2 linked regions of the Homo sapiens genome follow. The protein of the gene in region 2 interacts with the protein of the main gene of each other region in a biochemical or structural test. Each region holds a gene or a part of one and is shown on either strand. Other genes may lie near its edges.

Evidence for each region. The genes of interacting proteins can lie anywhere in the genome.
Region 1: the proteins of IL1RN (region 2) and COPS4 form a complex in vitro, tested with the Homo sapiens proteins (one study listed by BioGRID).

The regions. Positions count from the first base shown.
Region 1 is NC_000004.12:83,037,066-83,046,099, reverse strand, and holds part of COPS4 (COP9 signalosome complex subunit 4), read right to left. Parts: intron 475-9,034; coding exon 395-474; intron 1-394. UniProt on the Homo sapiens protein: Component of the COP9 signalosome complex (CSN), a complex involved in various cellular and developmental processes.
Region 2 is NC_000002.12:113,129,877-113,135,827, forward strand, and holds the end of IL1RN (interleukin-1 receptor antagonist protein isoform 1 precursor), read left to right. Parts: intron 1-1,168; coding exon 1,169-1,281; intron 1,282-2,779; coding exon 2,780-2,995; 3' UTR 2,996-4,138; downstream 4,139-5,951. UniProt on the Homo sapiens protein: Anti-inflammatory antagonist of interleukin-1 family of proinflammatory cytokines such as interleukin-1beta/IL1B and interleukin-1alpha/IL1A.

The DNA of each region.
Region 1 (9,034 bases), on a different chromosome or scaffold from region 2:
TGTACTATAGAGTACATTTTAGGTACATTAGATGTACTACAGAGTACATTTTAAAGAGGAAAAGGAGGCACAGAGAGGTTAAATAATTGACCCAAGATCACACAGCTCATAAAATAGCATACCAGGATTTGAATCCAAACTATTCTCTTTACTATTATGCTATATTGTCCCTTATCAGCTATTATAACAATAAACATACAAAACTTTAATTAGGATTGTAATTCTGAAGATAATTCACTGAAAATTAATCAAGTTGTAAACAGTTTAAATTCTAAAATCAATCAATCTCAATGCATATTTAATATTGATAATTTGATACAAAACAAGGCTTGAGAGAACTTTAAAGTCCTAGCTCAGTAATACAAGGCAAGCATGAAATTTCCATTTCACTTACTTGCTTCCACAAAAGCTTTCAAAGCTTCTAGTTGTTCTGCTCCAGATAACTGAATGGCTTTTTCCAGGATCTGACGATACCTACAACAATACCAAATGAAAATAATGTTCTGAGGGTACTATATTTTCTAATGCAAACTTTGATGTGTATTTATTCATTTCTACATACCTTGGTTTCTTTCATAGTACTATAGTTTGTGGTTTTCTTTATAGTATACCACAGATTTTTTTTTAAGTTTCTAGTCTATCACAAGAGATATTAAATCTATAATTATATAAGGTACCACTTCATCTAGTTTTCAGTATAGTATACCAGAATTTTTTAAGTTTTCAAGCTCATCACAAGAAAGAATGAATCTATAATTCTGTTACTGAATCTAAGGTGTCACTTTTTCTTGAAGGTTTTATTTTTGAATTTAAACTACAAAGTCAATTTCCTTTCAAATGCCTTAAAAGATAAGCTATATTTCCTTCAACTGTGCAATACATAGACACACAAAAACATTATTTGAGGTGACCTGAATCTTTTCCTCTTACAGACGTAATGTATGTAGGGTCACCAGCAATAGGATAATGTTGACCAGGCAACGAAACCAAACATTAAAGACTGAATGTCTTAGTCTGTACAAAATAAACTTCGCCAAGCCAAATGCACTGATAGAATACCATTTATGCTGTCAGACAGTACCTATTTATTCTTTATTTGCATTCAGATCTAATAACTATTCTACCTAATATCTGTGACCACACAAGCTCCACGAGGACAGGAATTCTTGTGTTTTGTTCTCTGCTATGTAGACAATTATCTCAATTCTTGGCACATCATAAGCACTCAAATATTCAACGGTATTAGTAATGTTTTATTTCTTAACGAGTGGTTAGTATATGAGTGTTATACTATTCTTTTGTTGTTGTTGTTGTTGTTGTTTTTGAAGACGGAGTCTCGCTCTGTCACCCAGGCTGGAGTGCAGTGGCGCAATCTTGGCTCACTGCAACCTCCACCTCCCAGGTTCAAGCGATTCTCCTGCCTCAGCCTCCTGAGTAGCTGGGATTACAGGCATGCGCCACCACGCCTGGCTAATTTTTGTATTTTTAGTAAAGATGGGGTTTCACCATGTGGTCAGGCTGGTCTCAAACTCCCGACCTCATGATCCGCCCACCTCAGCCTCCCAAAGTGCTGGGATTACAGGCGTTAGCCACCGTGCCCGGCCTATACTAATCTTTATCTCTTTTGTCTTAATCATTTTTTTTTTTTTTTTTTTGAGATGGAGTCTTGCTCTGTCACCCAGGCTGGAGTGCACTGGCGCAATCTCGGCTCACTGCAACCTCCGCCTCCCAGGTTCAAGCAATTCTCCTGCCTCAGCCTCCAGAGTAGCGAGGACTACAGGCATGCACCACCAAGTGCGGCTAATTTTTGTATTTTTGGTAGAGATGGGGTTTCCGCATGTTGGCCAGGCTGGTCTTGAACTCCTGACCTCAGGTGATCCGCCCACCTCGGGCTCCCACAGTGCTGGGATTACAGGCGTGAGCCACCGCGCCCAGCCAATTGTAATATTTTTTAAAAGCACTAAATACATTTTACAAACCTCATAGCATTGCAATTATTCGGAAAGTCATCCAGAATAGAGTTACGAAATAAATATACAAAAATAGAACCTGAACTCATTCAGATTTATGACTTTTATTTTGTAGGGCACACCCTCAAGCTACCACTCAGCATTACTGACTCTCAACTCATACAAAATTCTCACAACCTTGGTTATCTGATTTCTCAAAACCACAATGAATCAAAGTGACTTTAAGAAAGCAGATATACGGATAGAAAAGATAGCAAATTCCAAAAGAAGAAATAAATTATTCTAAGAAAGCAAGGAAATATTAAGTTTTTAGAAAATTATATTTTCAATATTGCTAAGTTTGAGGGTCCTTAAAAGATAAATTACTTTATGGCCCTGGGCATGCTTTCAGATAAGTTATACATTCAATGGTTTGTTATTTTTTATTTTTTTCATATTTAATTAAATCAAGGGTTATTGCTAAGATCTCTTACTTTTATATCCTCTTAGATTATTTTATACTAACAACATTATATTCAAAGGTAATAGTGTCTCACTTATATAAATTTGCTAATTAACCTAAGTTGTTTTGTGGTTGTTATGGTTTTTTTTTTTTTTTTTTTTTTTTTTTTGAGACAGGGTCTCACTCTGTCGCCCAGGCTAGAGTGCAGTGACATGATCATAGCTCACTGTAACCTCCAATTCCTGGGCTCAAACAATCCTCCTGCTTCTGCCTCCTGAGTAGCTAGGACTACAGGCATGTGCCACGACCCCTGGTTAACTGTTCTTTTCTTTTTGTAGAGATGGGGTCTCACTACATTGCCCAAACTGGTCTCCAACTTCTGGACTCAAGCAATCCTCCCAACTCAGCCTCCCCAAGTGCTGGGATTACAGGCTTGAGCCACTGTGCCTGGCCTAACCTAAGTTTTAACACATAGTTTCATAATCAATCAACTAATCTGTATTGGGAATAGGAAGAAAAAATGAAAATAAACCAACCTAAAAAGTGATCAAAGTTTTATACTCATCAAATTATATAACTTATAGAGGCCTTAGAAATTGTGTACATAAACTCCCAATTTTATAAATGAATAAATTGAGGGCCAGTCGCAGTGGCTCATGCCTGTAATCCTACCACTTTGGGAGGCCAAAGAAAGTAGATCACTTGAGTCCAGGAGTTCAAGACCAGCCTGGGCAATGTGGTGAAACCTCATCTCTACAAAAAAAAAAAAAAAATACAAAAATTGGTTGGGCGTGGTGGCTCATGCCTGTAATCCCAGCACTTTGGGAGGCCAAGGCAGTCAGATGGCTTGATCTCAGGAGTTCGAGACCAGTCTGAGCAACATAGTAAAACCTCATCTCTACCAAAAATATAAAAAAATTAGCCAGGCATTGTGGCACACACCTGTGGTGCCAGCTACTTGGGAGGCTGAGGGGGGAGGATTGCCTGAGCCCAGGAGGTGGAGGTTGCAGTGAGCTGAGATCTTGCCACTGCAACTCCAACCTGGGCAACAGAGTGATATCTCATCTCAAAAATAAAAATTTTAAAAATAAAAAAAAATTACAAAAATTAGCCAGCTGTGGTGGCGTGTGCCTGGACAGAGCAAGACCTTGTCTCAAAAAAAAAAAAAAATTAATTAATTAAAAAAAGTGAGGTACAGCACTGTGGCTACATTACATGCTCCCTTGCTTCTCTAATATGTAAATTCTAGTATCTAACAACAGAGATTACTTTTTCAGAATAACATAAAATGACTAACAAACCTGTTTTAAACCAGGAACTTAAACAGAAATTTAATACTGCCATATAAAATCACCCCAAGGTGTTAATTGAGTCCTTAGGCATTTTAAGATGCTATATGAGATTCTGTGTATGATACTAAAAAGTTTTTAAATGACCTTTGTATTTGAAGATCATATGGCTGAGAAGACAAAGGGGAAGATTAAAAATAAAAAGTTAATATGTCAAGTGTTAAATTACAATATGGTCAGGTGCGGTGGCTCACGCCTGTAATCCCAGCACTTTGGGAGGCTGAGGTGGGCCAATCACTTGAGGTCAAGAGTTCGAGACCAGCCTGGCCAACATGGTGAAACCTCATCTCTACTAAAAATACAAAAATTAGCCAGGTGTGGTGGCACGTGCCTGTAATCTCAGCTACTCGGGAGGCTGAGGCACGAGAATCACTTGAACCTGGGAGGCAGAGGTTGCAGTGAGCTGAGATCCCGCTGCTGCACTTCAGCCTGGGTGACAGAGCGAAATTCTATCTCAAAAAAAAAAAAAAGTATTAAATTACAATAATACAAAAACAAAAGTTATGATAAAACTGAACAATATAAGCAATATGATAAATGAAGAGGTAATATATTAACTCAAAAGAGAGTAAGGCCAGGTGAAGTGGCTCACACCTGCAATCCCAGCACTTTGGGAGGCCAAGGAAGACGATCGCTTGAGGCCAGGAGTTCAAGACCAGCCTGGCCAACACGGAGAAACCCCATCTCTACTAAAAATACAAAAATTAGCCGAGTGTGATGGTGCACAACTGTAAGTCCCAGCTACACGGGAGGCTGAGGCAGGAAAATCACTTGAACCCAGGAGGTGGAGGCTGCAGTGAGCCACTGTACTCCAGCCTGTGACAGAGTGAGAGTAAAACAAAAATGGACTAGATTTGTCAAATAAGGCTTCGTAGATAATAATAGCTTTTTATATGAGTACTCAGTATACAAAGAGAAATGTGACTGATATGGAGAATGTGACAAGTGCCAAATATTTTCTTCCTTAAAAAAATTTGGCCGGGCGCAGTGGCTCACGCCTGTAATCTCAGCACTTTGGGAGGCTGAGGTGGGCGGATCACCTGAGGTCAGGAGTTCAAGACCAGCCTGCCCAACATGGTGAAACTCTGTCTCTACTAAAAACACAAAAATTAGCCGGGCGTGGTGGCGTGTGCCTGTAGTCCCAGCTACTCAGGAGGCTGAGCCAGAAGAATCGCTTGAACCCGGGAGGTGGAGATTGCAGTAAGCCAAGATCATGCCACTGCACTCCAGCCTGGGCGACAGAGTGAGATTCCATCTCAAAAAAAAAAAACAAAAAACAAAAAAAAAAAACTTATGGAGGAAAATAAGTTTTATTACTAAGGCATCATACATCTCTCCTATCCATTTATCATCAGTGAATTGAGCATCTTTAATGTATATGAACCAAATTCAGTATGTTGATTCTTAATTTCTTGGCACTTGAAAGGAATCTGGAGATAAATAAAGCATGAAAATGTACCACAGTCATCATTTAAGATCACAATGGGTGGTAAAGGTAGGTATTAACAGATCTTCCACTTACAGTAATGGTGAACTAAACGACTGGACCAACCCTCCCTCAAAAAAAAAAAAAAAAAAGCCAACATAAAAAGCTGAAAGAAATGAAAAAAAAAATGTAATTGCATAAAATCCTAACAAGAAAGGTAAAATGAGGAAAATAAGATAAACCATATATTCTGTCTAAAGGCATTTGCTGACTGTGGAAAGATGGCTGAGAGGTAGAGTGGCACTTCTTGTAGGGAGGAGAAGGTGGGCTCACTGCGAATCTGCTGGAAGCACTGAGAAGCAAGCTGCCATTTCTGGCAGACTAATAGAGCTGCACAAATGGGAATGGAAGTTCCATATTCTGCCAAAGGAGGAGACACACACTTTGGAAGTAAGGTTACAAATTCTATCCCAAGACCACCCAGGTAAACCAAAAAAATTCTGAAGCCTTGATTATACACTGTTAGCACCCTCAGGTAATGAAATTTCTCTCTAGAATCAACAAAAGCAACAGACAATCGCAACAACCAAAACGTCAAATACTGACTGGAGTTATCAGAAAGAGCATGATACAATTATGCTTACAATGTTCATGGGGATAAAGACAAGCTTTAAAGTTTCAGCAACAGACCAGGAGCCATAAAAAGTATCATTGGAAAAAAGAACCACCAGAAATTACAGAGCTAAAAAATACAACCCAACTTAGAAACTCAATGGAGTACTTAACGGCAGATTAAACACAGTTGAAGAAGTGATAAACTAGAAGGTAGGCCTGAAGAACTAATCCAGAATAAAGCATTGAAATGGAAAAGACAGAGTAAGAGGCCTAGAGGTTATAGTCAGTGGGCCTGACAGGGATTTCACCGGAGCCTAGAGGAGAAACAGAATGGGGCAGAGGCAACATTTAAAGAGATACAGGCCAAGCACAGTAGCCCACACCTGTAATCCCAACACTTTTGTAGGCCGAGGCAGGAGAATCCCTTGAGCCCAGGAGTTCGAGACCTGCCTGGGCAACATAGGGAGACCCCATCTGTACCAAAAAAAATGTTTTTAAATTAGCCAGGCATGGTGTCACGTGCCTATAGTCCCAGCTACTCAGGAGGCTAAGGCGAGAAGATTGCTTGAGCCAAGCATGTTAAGGCTGTAGTAAGCCATGATCTCTCTACTGCACTCAAGCCAGGGCAACAGAGCAAGACCCTGTCTCTAAAATAAAATAAAGAGATATAACTGAAGACATCTCAAGACTGATGAAATGATTTAATCCATTGATTCAGGAAACCCAGTGAAGCTTAACCAGGATAATGTGACAGAGTGCTTACAAAAAACGGCCACAATATAATTTCACTCCCAGTACCCATGTCCCTTTACAATACAACTTTGTAGCTCTTCATATCAAAAGGTAGAGTTTATTTCCCTACCCCTTGAATCTGGGGTTAACCAATAAAACGTGGTAGAAATGAAGTGCTAGTTCTGAGCCCAGACCTCGAGAGGCCTTGTATGTGTTTGTCTTTTGGAACCCTGCTGCTGTCACATGAACAGGCTCAGACTAACATACTGGCTAATGAGATATGTAGCCCAGTCAACTATATTGCCCCAGCCAACAAGCCAGCCAATCCACAGAAGCAGAGCTGCCTACCTGGCCTGGCTGGCAGCTAACTATAGACCCACATGGGAGCCCATGTGGAACCAAGACCACGTGGAGCAGAAAAGAACCATACAGCTGGGCCCAATCCAAACTACCAACCTACAGAATTATAAGCTAAATAAGTGACTGTTGTTTTAAGCCCTAAGTTTTGGGGTTTATTTCACAGCAAAGGGTAACTGACATAGAAAAGTAAAAACAAATCCACAGACATATCATAATGAAGCTACACAAAATTAAAGACAAAATCTTAAAAACAGGTAAGTGCTGGCCAGGCGCGGTGGCTCACGCCTGTAATCCCAGCACTTTGGGAGGCCAAGGCAGGTGGATCACAAGGTCAAAAGATCGAGACCATCCTGGCCAACATGGTGAAACCCTGTCTCTACTAAAAATACAAAAAAAAGTAGTCGGGTGTGGTGGCATGCACCTGTAGTCCCAGCTACTTGGGAGGCTGAGGCAGAAGAATCGGTTGAACCCGGGAGGCAGAGGTTGCAGTGAGCCGAGATCGCGCCACTGCACTCCAGCCTAGGCAACAAGAGTGAAACTCCATCTCAAAACAAAACAAAACAAACAAACAAACAAAAAAAACAGGTAAGTGCTAATATAATTTTTAGGAGAGAGAAATCATTGGATGGGGTTGATCTTTAAACATTCTAAGTATTTCAATTTAATAACAGTAGGAAGACAGGCATTCTAGGCAAAAATAATCACTATCTGAAGTGTAGTCAATTTTTTTTTGTGAAAATAAGGCCAAAAAGGTAGATGTGTTTGTTTAGAGTTAAGGGCTCATAGGCAAGCAGATATGGACTGTCTTCTAGCTTCACCACTAGCTGTGTGACCTCAGAGCAAGGTATTTCAACTCTGTACTTTGGTTTTCTCTTATTATAATGTAAATAATATCACTACTATCACCTACTCCTACTTGTTAAGGATTTTTAAATGTAAGTAATGTTGTGCTTCGCACAGTAAACTCTAGATGTTATTGACTTTCACTCTAGAGATGAAAACCACTAAAACTGTTGTGTTTGGGACAACAAAGAGAGAATCAGAATCTGAGTTAGAAGGGGCCTTTGAGGCTATCCTCAATAAAGTCTATCCTCCGTTGTGGCTCTCCTATTCTAAAGCTTTATGTGAGATAATAAATACAATGCATAATATGCACAAAAGCAGCCTATAAAATGGAGGAAATGCTTTTCCTCTGGCTAATTTCTTATATAAACTTTAGACAGCTGTGTTAATTCACAGTTATGGGAAAGCATTTCTAACTGAGTTTTTAACAAGAAAACGAGCATAGTCTGGTAGGTTTAAAATGAGCTTTTTAGAGTAGATGAACCTGGATTCAAATACAAGCACTGCCCCTTTCTAGCTATTCATTAATTCAACCACGTTTATTGAACAACTACTGTTACAGATATCCCAATTGCTAGGAACACACAGTATTGATGTTTTAGAAACAATGTATTCCATTATTCTTTAATATGGAATCCTTTGTTACTCAGCTCCTAAAAAAAACACCCAAAAACCTTCATTAAAAGTACATACAAGAAAAAATACATTAAAAAAAAACACACTGATATATTTCAAGGGTATTTCTCTTAAAGCATATAGCTGGTAGAACTGATGTTGTTGTAAGGATAAATATCCTGCTACATTCTTGCCCACATAGGAAATGCAGGCAAGGCCAAGACTTTTCTCAGAAAGCAGCTCTGAAGGAGTTATGGCTAAGACTGCACTGGCTATCAGTTATCAAGCACATTATTTCATTTAATCTTCACAATAACACCATGTGGTAGACTGCTACAGTAACGGCTTCCAATGAATCGTGTCTCCCTCTGTCCAGGCTCCTTTGCAATGTAACTTTGCCACTAAAGAGGTAGTAGTAAGCTCCATTTCCCCTCCCCTTGAATCTGGGCTGGTCTTCTGATTTACTTTGACCAGTACTAGAGAACTGACGTGAGACTTCCTAGGCTATCCTTAAGAGGTCTTGCGACTTCCCCTCTCATAGGCACCTAAGAAAGCCCAAGCTAAACTACTGAATGAGAGACTGTGCAGAGAGAGAGAGAGATCCAGGCAAGAGCAAGATATGCATGTGAGTCCCGCCCCAGGTGTGTTGCCAGCTGACTATATCTGCATGAGTGAGCCCAGA
Region 2 (5,951 bases):
AGAGGTCAGTGCCTATAGGCACAGTGGTCCCAGGGCCACAGCTGGGAAGGGCAAATACCAGAAGGCAAGGTTGACCATTCCCTTCCTCAAGTGCCTATTAAGGCTCCATGTTCCTATGTTGTTCAAACCCTAACTCAATCCCAAATTAATCCACCATGTATAAGGTTGAGCTATGTCTCTTATTCCTGGACACCATACTCAGCCATATTCTGGTCCACACATTAAACAAGCTGGATGACCTTGAAGAAGCTTCACCCACTCTGTTCCTCAGCTTTCCCTTCAGTGGGATGATATCAACTGGACAACAGGATGTGCGATTCTTTTAGTTCCAGCCTTCCAGGATGTTTTCACTCCCCTGTTTGTTGTTGTAGGATGGTATTACCTCCACCTTCCCACCTTCCCTATGCCCTGGTTCTGTCTCCTGTGCCTCGCTCTGAAAGTGGATGAGACCTACAATTCCTGTCCTGGTAGTTCTCCTAATGAACACACTGAAGCACGAGGAAGCTGAGATTTTTGTTGCTACATGAGAGCATGGAGGCCTCTTAGGGAGAGAGGAGGTTCAGAGACTCCTAGGCTCCTGTGGAGCCCCACTCATGGCCTTGTTCATTTTCCCTGCCCCTCAGCAACACTCCTATTGACCTGGAGCACAGGTATCCTGGGGAAAGTGAGGGAAATATGGACATCACATGGAACAACATCCAGGAGACTCAGGCCTCTAGGAGTAACTGGGTAGTGTGCATCCTGGGGAAAGTGAGGGAAATATGGACATCACATGGAACAACATCCAGGAGACTCAGGCCTCTAGGAGTAACTGGGTAGTGTGCATCCTGGGGAAAGTGAGGGAAATATGGACATCACATGGAACAACATCCAGGAGACTCAGGCCTCTAGGAGTAACTGGGTAGTGTGCATCCTGGGGAAAGTGAGGGAAATATGGACATCACATGGAACAACATCCAGGAGACTCAGGCCTCTAGGAGTAACTGGGTAGTGTGCTTGGTTTAATCTTCTATTTACCTGCAGACCAGGAAGATGAGACCTCTCTGCCCTTCTGACCTCGGGATTTTAGTTTTGTGGGGACCAGGGGAGATAGAAAAATACCCGGGGTCTCTTCATTATTGCTGCTTCCTCTTCTATTAACCTGACCCTCCCCTCTGTTCTTCCCCAGAAAAGATAGATGTGGTACCCATTGAGCCTCATGCTCTGTTCTTGGGAATCCATGGAGGGAAGATGTGCCTGTCCTGTGTCAAGTCTGGTGATGAGACCAGACTCCAGCTGGAGGTAAAAACATGCTTTGGATCTCAAATCACCCCAAAACCCAGTGGCTTGAAACAACCAAAATTTTTTCTTATGATTCTGTGGGTTGACCAGGATTAGCTGGGTAGTTCTGTTCCATGTGGTGGAACATGCTGGGGTCACTTTGGAAGCTGCATTCAGCAGAGTGCCTGGCTTGCGCTGGGCATCCAAGGTGGTCCCTCATCCTCCAGGCTCTCTTTCCATGTGATCTCTCAGTGTTTAAGAGTTAGTTGGAGCTTCCTTACAGCATGGCGGCTGACTTCCAAAAGGGATTATTCCAAAAAGAGCCTCAACATGCAGGCGCTTATTATGACTTCTGCTTGCATCATCCTATTGGCCAAAGCCAGTCACGTGGCTAAGTCTAGCCCCCTGTGAGAGGAGACTGCATAAGAGTGTGAACACCAGGAGACACGGTCACTGGGGGCCACCACTGTAACCATCTACCACAGGACCTGAATCTCTGTGTGCTACTCCCTTGCTCAAGGGCCCCCCTACCCACGCAGACCTGCTGTCTTCTAGCAAAGCCCATCCTCAGGACCTTTCTCTTCCAATCCTTATTGACTCAAATTGATTAGTTGGTGCTCCACCCAGAGCCCTGTGCTCCTTTATCTCATGTAATGTTAATGGGTTTCCCAGCCCTGGGAAAACATGGCTTTGTCTCAGGGGCTTGCTGGATGCAAGCTTAACCTCAATGTGAGTGGCCATACTGTGGCACTGTCCCATCCCTCACCAGGGACACTGTTCTGGAGGGTGACTGCCTGTTCTGTGAGGAGTGGGGATGGCTAGGACATTGCATGGAACACACCACCACCCCATCTTCTCAGAGCTCAAACCCTGACAGAACACCAGCTCCACAGGCCTTGGCTTCTGCTGATGGTGCCGTGTATTTACCAGACTTAGTGGTCCAAGGCCAGAGTGGCCAGATTTCCCAAAGTCAAGGTGTGACAGTGGGACAGCCTCTTTGTGTCTTTGCTGTCCTAAGAAACCTGGGCCAGGCCAGGCGCAGTGGCTCACGCCTGTAATCCCAGCACTTTGAGAAGCCAAGGTGGGCAGATCACGAGGTCAGGAGTTTGAGACCAGCCTGGCCAACATGGTGAAACCCTGTCTCTATTAAAAATAGAAAACATTAGACAGGTGTGGTGGTGCATGCCTGTAATCCCAGCTACTCAGGAGGCTGAGGCAGGAGAATCGCTTGAACCCAGGAGGTGGAGGTTGCAGTGAGCCGAGATTGTGCCACTGCACTCCAGCCTAGGCGACAGAGCAAGACTCCGTCTCGGGAAAATTAATTAATAAATAAATAAACCTAGGTCCCAGAGTCCCACAGAATGGCAGACAGGAGCACCTGGGGGCTTTTAGGGTATGGCATTTCCCCTGTACTAACTCTGGGCTGTCCAGAGGGCCATTTCATGGCGTGGAGTGGAGAGGGAGGCAGCACAGGACTTCCTAGGCCTCAGCTCTCACCTGCCCATCTTTTGATTTCCAGGCAGTTAACATCACTGACCTGAGCGAGAACAGAAAGCAGGACAAGCGCTTCGCCTTCATCCGCTCAGACAGTGGCCCCACCACCAGTTTTGAGTCTGCCGCCTGCCCCGGTTGGTTCCTCTGCACAGCGATGGAAGCTGACCAGCCCGTCAGCCTCACCAATATGCCTGACGAAGGCGTCATGGTCACCAAATTCTACTTCCAGGAGGACGAGTAGTACTGCCCAGGCCTGCCTGTTCCCATTCTTGCATGGCAAGGACTGCAGGGACTGCCAGTCCCCCTGCCCCAGGGCTCCCGGCTATGGGGGCACTGAGGACCAGCCATTGAGGGGTGGACCCTCAGAAGGCGTCACAACAACCTGGTCACAGGACTCTGCCTCCTCTTCAACTGACCAGCCTCCATGCTGCCTCCAGAATGGTCTTTCTAATGTGTGAATCAGAGCACAGCAGCCCCTGCACAAAGCCCTTCCATGTCGCCTCTGCATTCAGGATCAAACCCCGACCACCTGCCCAACCTGCTCTCCTCTTGCCACTGCCTCTTCCTCCCTCATTCCACCTTCCCATGCCCTGGATCCATCAGGCCACTTGATGACCCCCAACCAAGTGGCTCCCACACCCTGTTTTACAAAAAAGAAAAGACCAGTCCATGAGGGAGGTTTTTAAGGGTTTGTGGAAAATGAAAATTAGGATTTCATGATTTTTTTTTTTCAGTCCCCGTGAAGGAGAGCCCTTCATTTGGAGATTATGTTCTTTCGGGGAGAGGCTGAGGACTTAAAATATTCCTGCATTTGTGAAATGATGGTGAAAGTAAGTGGTAGCTTTTCCCTTCTTTTTCTTCTTTTTTTGTGATGTCCCAACTTGTAAAAATTAAAAGTTATGGTACTATGTTAGCCCCATAATTTTTTTTTTCCTTTTAAAACACTTCCATAATCTGGACTCCTCTGTCCAGGCACTGCTGCCCAGCCTCCAAGCTCCATCTCCACTCCAGATTTTTTACAGCTGCCTGCAGTACTTTACCTCCTATCAGAAGTTTCTCAGCTCCCAAGGCTCTGAGCAAATGTGGCTCCTGGGGGTTCTTTCTTCCTCTGCTGAAGGAATAAATTGCTCCTTGACATTGTAGAGCTTCTGGCACTTGGAGACTTGTATGAAAGATGGCTGTGCCTCTGCCTGTCTCCCCCACCGGGCTGGGAGCTCTGCAGAGCAGGAAACATGACTCGTATATGTCTCAGGTCCCTGCAGGGCCAAGCACCTAGCCTCGCTCTTGGCAGGTACTCAGCGAATGAATGCTGTATATGTTGGGTGCAAAGTTCCCTACTTCCTGTGACTTCAGCTCTGTTTTACAATAAAATCTTGAAAATGCCTATATTGTTGACTATGTCCTTGGCCTTGACAGGCTTTGGGTATAGAGTGCTGAGGAAACTGAAAGACCAATGTGTCTTTCTTACCCCAGAGGCTGGCGCCTGGCCTCTTCTCTGAGAGTTCTTTTCTTCCTTCAGCCTCACTCTCCCTGGATAACATGAGAGCAAATCTCTCTGCAAAAAAGATATGGGGCAGCACTGTCCACAACAGCCTCTGCTGGAAACAACCCAAGCACCCATCACAGAATGAATTAGTACATCATGTATCTGCACACAACACAGTGCTCCTTGGCAAAGAAAATGAATGAATTACAGCCAGCTGCACCTCACAAGACAGATAATCTTACAAACATCATGTGGGTACAAGAATCACAAAAGCATGCATAGAGTGTGATTCCATTTCTACAAAGTTCAAAACGGGCAACATGGGGCTGTTGTGTGGAGGGCTGTGGAAACAGGTGGTGCAGAGAGAAGCAAGGCCATGCTCTGTCTGAAGGCCCAGTGACACTTGGCCCCTGCGAGAGAGAGTGGCAGGCAGGAGCACCTGGGGGATTTTAGGGTCCAGACAACATTCTATTTCTTGGCATGGATGCAGTTAGGCGGTTTTCTGTATGTATATTTTATTTCACAATACCTAGAAAATAAAAAGACTTGCCCCCCAACAACCAGGGTGTAAAGAAAGGAGCATCTGGGAAATTATGAGATTAGTGAATGGAGTATTGAATTTGTCCCCATAGGTGGGAGTGCAAGACCATGAGTGACCACTTATCAAACACACCTCAGTAAACAGTCAGGAGAGTGAGGAGTGTGGTCCTTTCACCTGCCCAGGTTGTTTCTGTTAGATTCTGGGCTTGGTCTCTGGAGTCCAAGAGGCAGGCCCCAGTGAGGTCATGCACTTGCTGTCTGATTTTGGCCAAGTCACCTCCCTTTGTGGGGACTGTTCCTCATTTGTTTGAGGGGAATGTTGATTTGGATGGGGATTTTCCAAACAGAGCTCCTTGGACCCTTCCCTCTAAGGTCTCTGGAAATGGGAAACCCTGCAGAGGGGAGGATAAATGGGCCAGGATTCATCCCTTGAACCCTGTTCCCAACAGAGCCCTCTGTTTTTCTCTTCTTTACAACTTGGACCTCCCATGGGACTTTGTTTGAAAGGGAGACTTCATTGCTAAAAGCAAACTAAACTAAATAGGCTAAAAGGCAACAAACTGGAGAAAATGTTTAAGGTCTTCTCTAGATCTAAGATCCTATGACGTTGAGGAGGTCATCCAACATCTCTGAGTTTTCTCTTTCTTGTATATAAAATGGAAGTAGCTGGCAGGGCAGGGCATGTGTCGTTGATATATTTTTAATCCTGGTAAAAGGAGGAGGTTCAAGGCAGAAAACTCATCAAAGCTTAATGACAACAATAGCAGCTAACATTTGTGAGGCTCTAAGGTAAAACCCAAGGCTAAGACTCTTCATGCAAACTAGGTCAAGCAGCAAGCTACAGGTTAGAAACAGGCAAGGCAGCAAAACAGTCACATGGGTGAACTCTGGGACTCTGCAGTCACACTCTGACTCTCCTGCTTGCACTGGGTGCTCATAAGCAAGCTAGTTAACACCTCAGAGCCTTGGTTTTCCCACCACTAAATGCAAATAATAGGCAATGCTGAGTTATTGCAAAGTTACTTAATCTTTGCAATAGCCTTCTGTGGTGAGTGGCATATTCTTATTATTATTATTAGTCCTAGAAGAGTCAGTGCTCAAAGGAATCTGCTTTAGAGCCTTATTGCTCCAAGTGTGGTTCATGCATCAGCAACATCAGCATACTTCTGGA